Linked DNA regions of Homo sapiens. The protein of the gene in region 2 interacts with the protein of the main gene of each other region in a pairwise test. Each region holds a gene or a part of one and is shown on either strand. Other genes may lie near its edges. The genes, in order: SGTB and DEFA6.

Region 1 (3,827 bases), on a different chromosome or scaffold from region 2:
CACCTGTAATCCCAGCACTTTGGGAGGCTAAGATGGGCGGAGCACTTGAGGTCAGGAGTTCCAGACCAGCCTGGCCAACCTGGCGAAACCCCGTCTCTACTAAAAATACAAAAATTAGCTGGGCATGGTGGTGCATGCCTGTAATCCCAGCTACTTGGGTGGCTGAGGCAGGAGAATCACTTGACTCCGGGAGGCAGAGGTTGCAGTGAGCTGAGGTCATGCCATTGCACTCCAGCCTGGGTGACAGAGTGAAACTTCATCTCAAAAAAAAAAAATAGCCCTATAGGACAGCGGTCCCCAACCTTTTTGTAACAGGGACTGGTTTCATGGAAGACAGTTTTTCCATGGACCATACCGGGTGTAGGGGGTAGGGGCAGGATGGGGAGAGGAGCGTTAGATTCTCTTGAGGAGCACTCAACCTAGGTCCTTCACATGCGCAGTTCACAATAGGGTTCTTGCTCCTATGAGAATCTAATGCTGCAGCTGATCTGACAGGAGGTGGAGCTCAGGCAGTAATGCTTGCTCGCCCACCGCTTACCTGCTGCTGTGCAGCCTGGTTCCTAACAGTCTGTGGCCCAGGGGTTGGGGACCGCTACTATAGGAAACAAAGCAGTCAATGGTGCCTCTTTTCTACTACAACCGGTCAGTCTGTAGCAGGCCCATGCTAGGAAGGGAGAAGTTTTACCTGTAAATGAAGCTTTATGTATTTGATTGTTACACTGAGACATTAATTGCTGAACTGGAGGTCATTTTATAGAACTTAAAGTGACAGGAGGATTGCTTACTGAAAAGTGACTGGAAAAGCATAGATCTGTTCTAAATTTCCTCTAGGTCCTAGATTGTGGGAGAAGGGGAAGAACTACTGCTGCAGAACTAGTTTAAAGGGATTGCAAAACACAGCATTTCATGTTTATAGCTCATACATCCTGCTTTTCCTGTGTAATGCCTTTAGCACTTATGGGTTGGCTCAGAGGCACCAATCCTGACTGGGACTTGAGGAAAGTTTTGAATTACTTACGAATCAGTCAGTGATCTTTCTGGTAATATAAGCAAGTGGTGGCTTTTCCCAACACCTCATAGAGAGTCTGTGAATATAATCTATTGTCTACAAAGATTTAGACTAAATTCAAATTTTACATAAATATTGTCGACATTACCAATTTGAGGGAAAAAATGTGATGCTTTCAAAATAGAATGTTTTAAAAGTATGTGTGCACATAAATATAATTCCTTGTGCCACTGTAAGCATGGGAAGGATTGAAATTGCTGGGCCCCATGGAGCAAAGTCACATCTCTTAAAAGCTCGTTTGGAATGGACCTTCTCAAGTGTAGGAGATCCCTTAACCATACTTTTAAAGTTCCTATTTTTCCTTTTGGCTTAATTGGTCTGATAGCAGTAGTAAGTAAACTGCTGTCAACATCCTCAGTTTATAGTGTTGTTTGTAATCTCTTTATCCTCACCATGTCTTCTTAATGCCACTTTTTCTAGTACCTTCTCTCTTTTTACATTCCCCTTTACTTTGCATAGCACACTGAAACTCTACAAAATGTTAGTGCATACATGATTTAGCTTTCATTCTTCTAAAAAAAAAATCTTTGCTAAGATCCCTACATATTAACTGCCTTTAATGGGAGGTGCTGTTTTTCAATTCCAGGCGGCAAGTTTAATGCAGAACCCTCAAGTTCAACAGCTGTAAGTATATAGAAAGAGCTTATTACACTTCCCCAACCCTTCCACTTGCCAGGCTCCTAATTTGAGCACATCAGCTCAAAAATGATGAAACTGTTCTGAATGACAGTCAGTTGGAGCTTAAAGCCACACACATTTGGCCTAGCCTCTGGTATAACATGGGTATTTTATTAACTTTTCCTCGTCCAGTTGTCCTATTTGTTAAGAATATATACCAATCCCAGTGATGTATTTCTTGTGTACTCTAGAATGTCAGGAATGATGACAAATGCCATTGGGGGACCTGCTGCTGGAGTTGGGGGCCTAACTGACCTGTCAAGCCTCATCCAAGCGTAAGTATTATTTAAAACAGAAATAGTGAAGATGTATTTTATGTTTTACAGCCTATCTCTATGGTGAGGGGTCAGGGCTTTCTTTTTAAATGTTTATCTTTTACCGTTAGTAACTTTAGCCTCCTTAATGTTACTAAATCTGAAAGAAGTTCATGAATTACAACCACTTTTTAGACTGCAGGGCAGGAATCCATACCTAGATAGTCTGGCCAGCCCTGTCTGTTGAGAAAAAGAACCATGTTTATTATGCTTCCCCCCACCCCCACCCCCGCCCCCGGTTCATTATGCTTTATTTTTTGGGACTTTCAAGTACCAGCAGAATCTTTTTCTTCTTTTCTTTTTTGGCACCATCTCAATAAGGCAGGTGAGGGACAGATATTAGAAAAGTAGATAATTTATATCCCTACCCAATGGCTAGAGAAACTGAGGTACAGGTTAGTGACTTACTAAGGAACCCATAGCACATTCAGTCTTTTCATTTGCAGCCTAATTTTACTTGATTGTGTTGTCAGCATGAAATTAGGGTCCTTGGTTTTTAAGTGGGGGTATCAATACTGTATCTCTGCTTACAGAGGGTCCCAAGGATTGGTGACCTGGTACTTTGAGGGTATGGAGACAAACAGTAAAAATCATATGTCCAAATAAATTGTGATCTCATATATATATAAAGCTATTAATCCCCCATTTTTTCCCAATGAAGATCCAGGAAGTTTTTCAGCAGACTTCAAACTACTCAGGGACACAGATGAAGGTCAAATATCCTCTTAAAATATATATCAATTTAGGTACACATACATAGTTTAAAATCACTTGTTACATACTTTAATGTTCAGGCAATTCAGGAAATTTTTATTCAAACTTTTTCAGTGCCTGTCAACACTTAGAGGAACTACTTGCATCTTCTCATTACTTGAGCACATTGCCTTCACTTATATCAAATTGGCGAAGACAACTTTGCTTTTTGAATCTGTGTCTGATGCTCTCGCTGGACATTTTATATGAAGCCACAGTACCACTTGTTGTTTGTCAGCACAACTGTGTATCCACTTAGAATATTGCATTTTTAGAATGACCTTTAAATGGCATATAATGACATCTAACACTGGCAATAGAGGGTCACATACTACAATTTGTGTTAAACTTCTTAGTGTTTTTAAAATTACTTGTTAGGTGACCTCCAAAAGCATCCCAAACTGGGTGTTATATGAGACTATTAAGACTTGGGTATAAAAGCATTGTATTTGAGCACATACAATAAAAACATATACGTCTTACCCTTTGCTTCTTTGTCATTAGCACTAGAGAAGTAGATTTCACCCAGTTGAGGTACTTATTTTTTTTAGCATGGGTGTTTTGTTTCTTATAAAGAACACTGCATTGTAATAATGCTATATGGAGGCATTGGTAAACTTGTAGATTCTAAAGTCATGGCTCTGAAACTTGTTTTTATAGAAAAAAGCCCCCTTTAGGTAGCTCCTACATTTTCTGCATTTCTTTTTGCGTGGGTAAATGTGACTGGCAATTCCCTATTCAAACCACATTGCCTCTTTACTACAGGGGACAGCAGTTTGCTCAGCAGATACAGCAACAAAATCCTGAACTTATAGAGCAACTGAGAAATCACATCCGGAGCAGATCATTCAGCAGCAGCGCTGAAGAGCATTCCTGATTTAACCAGGGGCTCAAGCCCAAGATACAAATGGTTTATGGCTATGAATGAAGTATTTGTTGTAGATAGTACCCCCTCCCTCCTTCAAAAAACCAAACACCATATCTGATGTGTGAAAATAATGGAGGAAAACCTC
Region 2 (3,450 bases):
TCTAAGCCCTCCAGCCAACTGAATGGACGCCTCCTCTCAGCCCAAGGCATTCTAGTGTTAACCTCAAACACTGGTTCAGGCCATGATGGGACGTGGGGATCAGGAATACCTCATGATATCCTCCTCCCATTGGAATTCAGGCACAGCTGGCCAGCATTAACATTAAAACAGAGTGCCTAAGGCCACGTGCGGTGGCTCATGCCTGTAATCCCAGCACTTTGGGAGGCCGAGGTGGGCGGATCACTTGAGGTCAGGAGTTCGAGACCAGCCTGGTCAACATAGTGAAACCCTGTCTCTACTAAAAATACAAAAATTACTTGGCGTGGTGGTGGATACCTGTAATCCCAGCTACTTGGGAGGCTGAGGCAGGAGAATCACTTGAACCCAGGAGGTAGAGGTTTCAGTGAGCCAAGATTGTGCCACTGCACTGCAGCCTGGGCAACAGAGCGAGACTCCATCTCAGAAAGCAAAAAACAAAAAAACAAAAAACCCAAATCCTCTCTTCTCTCAACATCCTCTCTACCACTTCTCTGGTCTACATAGAAAACTCTTTCGAAGAGCTAGTGTTCTGAGATACGACTTGGGTTTTTGTTTTTGCATCTGAAGAATCCTGAATTATCAAACACCAGAAAAGCACAAACACAAAAGAACTTGCTGAAAGGACTTTATTTGAGATGAGGAAACAAAGTTGATGGCAATGTATAGGACACACGACAGTTTCCTTCTAGGTCATAAAGTAAATTATGAATATATTTCTCTCTGTTCTCATCCCTCAGAGGCAGCAGAATCTGTGGTTAATACCCATGACAGTGCAGGTCCCATAGGAATATTCTGTTGAATAACAGGACCTTCTGCAATGGCAAGTGAAAGCCCTTGTTGAGCCTGGGGACAGAGAGAGAGAGCATCAGAAATTGAGCACCAGGGTCAGCAGCGGGCAGTAAAGAGAATCTTCAGGAAGTTGCATGCTTGCTGACATGTAATGCTGGCTGCATTACAGCCAATAGCATGATCACACCATCAATAGGAATAAATACGCAGAGCAGTGTTGGTCACACACAGGATTAGAGAGCCATTCTGATATGCTGTACTTATCTGCTCCTTCCCTGTCACACACACATCTGAATGCACCCATATGACTGTCTCCAGTTTGCAACGGTTCCTATAAAAGTCAGATTAAAAAACATTCCTTTAGCAGCTGGATGTGGTGGCTTACGCCTGTAATCCCAGCACTTTGGGAGGCCAAGGTGGGTTTATCACAAGGTCAGGAGTTCAAGACTAGCCTGGCCAAGATGGTGAAACCCCGTCTCTACTGAAAAAAAAAAAAATACAAAATTTAGCCAGGCTTGGTGTCTGGTGCCTGTAATCCTAGTGACTTGGGAGGCTGAGGGAGAGAATTGCGTGAACCCAGGAGGCAGAGGTTGCAGTGATCTGAGATAGTGCCACTGCACTCCAGCCTGGGTGACAGAGCGAGACTCCATCAAACAAAACAAAACAAAACAAAGCAAAACAAAACATTCCTTTAAAATTAGGCTCTCTTCCTTGAAGTAGAGACTCCTCAATACATTTCTACATGGCAAAAAATTAGAAAATTTCATAGACTTATCATAGAATTAAAAAATCTTTAGAGAAAAGTCATGCCTTGAATATCACTGATTCTTCCTTTTCAGTACAAACATAAAGTAATTGAGGCCTGGGGAGGTGATCACCTAAGAGAAAGAGCCAGCTGTTGGATCTAATTCTAGAAGTGCTTGGTTTTCCTCTCTACACTCCTAGCTCTGCAATGCTGGTGTCTCTTACCCAAAGCTCTAAGACTTGAGCTTGCATCCTCTGCAAAGGAGACGGCAAAGTCCTGGTCATTTGCCCCACGCTGCTCCTGGGCATCAGCCTCATAAGCTTTTGCCTGCAGTGGATCATCCTCAGCTTGGAGTGGCTCAGCCTTGGCCTGGAGGGCCACGAGGAGAACAGCAGTGAGGATGGTGAGGGTTCTCATGGCTAGGGTCGCTGGAGGAGAGAGAGCAGGAGCAGATGTGTGGGGAGTGAGGAGCCAGCCTGGATTTATAGGTCTGCTGGGAGAAGGCTCAGGGACAGATGTTGCGGTGAGACGGGGAGTGCATGTGATTGGGGAGCAGAAGAGCTACCCTTGCCCTCCATGTCCCTTTGATGCTCCTTTGTTCTCCAAGCTTCATTGTAGTGTGAGGCTGTTTATTGAGTGTCTGTTCTGGTCCCAGCTGATAGTGATGATAAGAACAGTGTTACATTGTCCTGTTTTCCATCTGCTGGAATATTTACTTGTTAATATTCAAAAAAGAAAAGAACAGTGCTTTCAATGAATAATTTCAGGAATCAAATGCCTCTTATTTTCTGAAGGTGGGGCTGGCCACTCTCTGGAGGTCTAGACCTTGAGGCCAGAGCTGGATCCCGCTAGAGTAGAGAGTTAATTCATTGCAGGATTCAGGGGGCATTTCTGCCCTCATGAAGGAGGCTTTGAGATTATGGGGTGAATAGGCTCTTGTGGGGCACAGTGTGGAGAAGATAATGACCTTATCAGCCTATAAGGGAAAAGAACTCAGTGGGATACTAGGTAAAGAGTTAGTAAAACTAAAGCCAAAAGATTTATTTCAAGAAACCCATGTGATCTGAATGTATCAACTAAAATATGTACTAGGTATTTCTCTCCACTTTGAGAAACATCGAAACAATTGACATGCCCACAATCCCCCTCTGAAATTTTATTTTATTTTTAATTTTAGAAAATGTTGAATTGCCCACAAGGACCATTCAAAGGGTAAAAGGAGTAATGAGCCTCCATCCTTGCCCCAGCCCTGCAGCTCTGCTCCAGGAAATCTCCACTTAAAAATTAAACATTGGTTTGTGCTTTGTTTTTTCTCCCTAATGCTGTAATTTGAATACTTTGTAGCTCAAAACATATAGAACTCTACCATTATTTTCATAGTCTCTTGTTTCTGGTCTTCTATTCAGGTATTTTATCCATTTTGAGTTAAGTTTTGTATATGCCAAAAGAGAAGGGTCCAGTTTTATTGTTTTGCATATGGAAATAGTATTCCCACCACCATTTATTGAAGAGACTCTCCTGTCCCTATTGTGTCTTCTTCATGCCATTGTCAAAAGTTACTTGACCATATGTGTTTCGATGTGTTTCTGGACTCTCAATTTTATTTCACTGGTATGTGTCTGGTTTTATGCCAATACCATATTGTTTTGATTACCGTAGCTTTGTAATATAATTTAAAACCAGGAATTGTGATGTCTTCAACTTTGTTTTTTTTTCTCAGAATTGTTTTGTCTATTTGGGTTCTTTCACCATTTCATACAAATTTTAGGATTTTTTTTTTTATTTCTGTAAAGAATGCCATGGGGATTTTGATAGGAATTGTGCTGAATCGGTATATTGTTTTGTTTGGGATAGACATTTTAACAATCTTAATTCTT

Evidence for each region.
Region 1: the proteins of DEFA6 (region 2) and SGTB interact in binary tests that used the Homo sapiens proteins (3 or more experiments, as listed by UniProt).

What each region holds. Positions count from the first base shown.
Region 1 is NC_000005.10:65,670,110-65,673,936, reverse strand, and holds part of SGTB (small glutamine-rich tetratricopeptide repeat-containing protein beta), read left to right. Parts: intron 1-1,655; coding exon 1,656-1,693; intron 1,694-1,938; coding exon 1,939-2,022; intron 2,023-3,579; coding exon 3,580-3,691; 3' UTR 3,692-3,827. UniProt on the Homo sapiens protein: Co-chaperone that binds directly to HSC70 and HSP70 and regulates their ATPase activity.
Region 2 is NC_000008.11:6,924,046-6,927,495, forward strand, and holds DEFA6 (defensin-6 preproprotein), read right to left. Parts: upstream 2,032-3,450; 5' UTR 1,991-2,031; coding exon 1,798-1,990; intron 883-1,797; coding exon 773-882; 3' UTR 652-772; downstream 1-651. UniProt on the Homo sapiens protein: Host-defense peptide that contributes to intestinal innate immunity and mediates homeostasis at mucosal surfaces by forming higher-order oligomers that capture bacteria and prevent microbial invasion of the epithelium.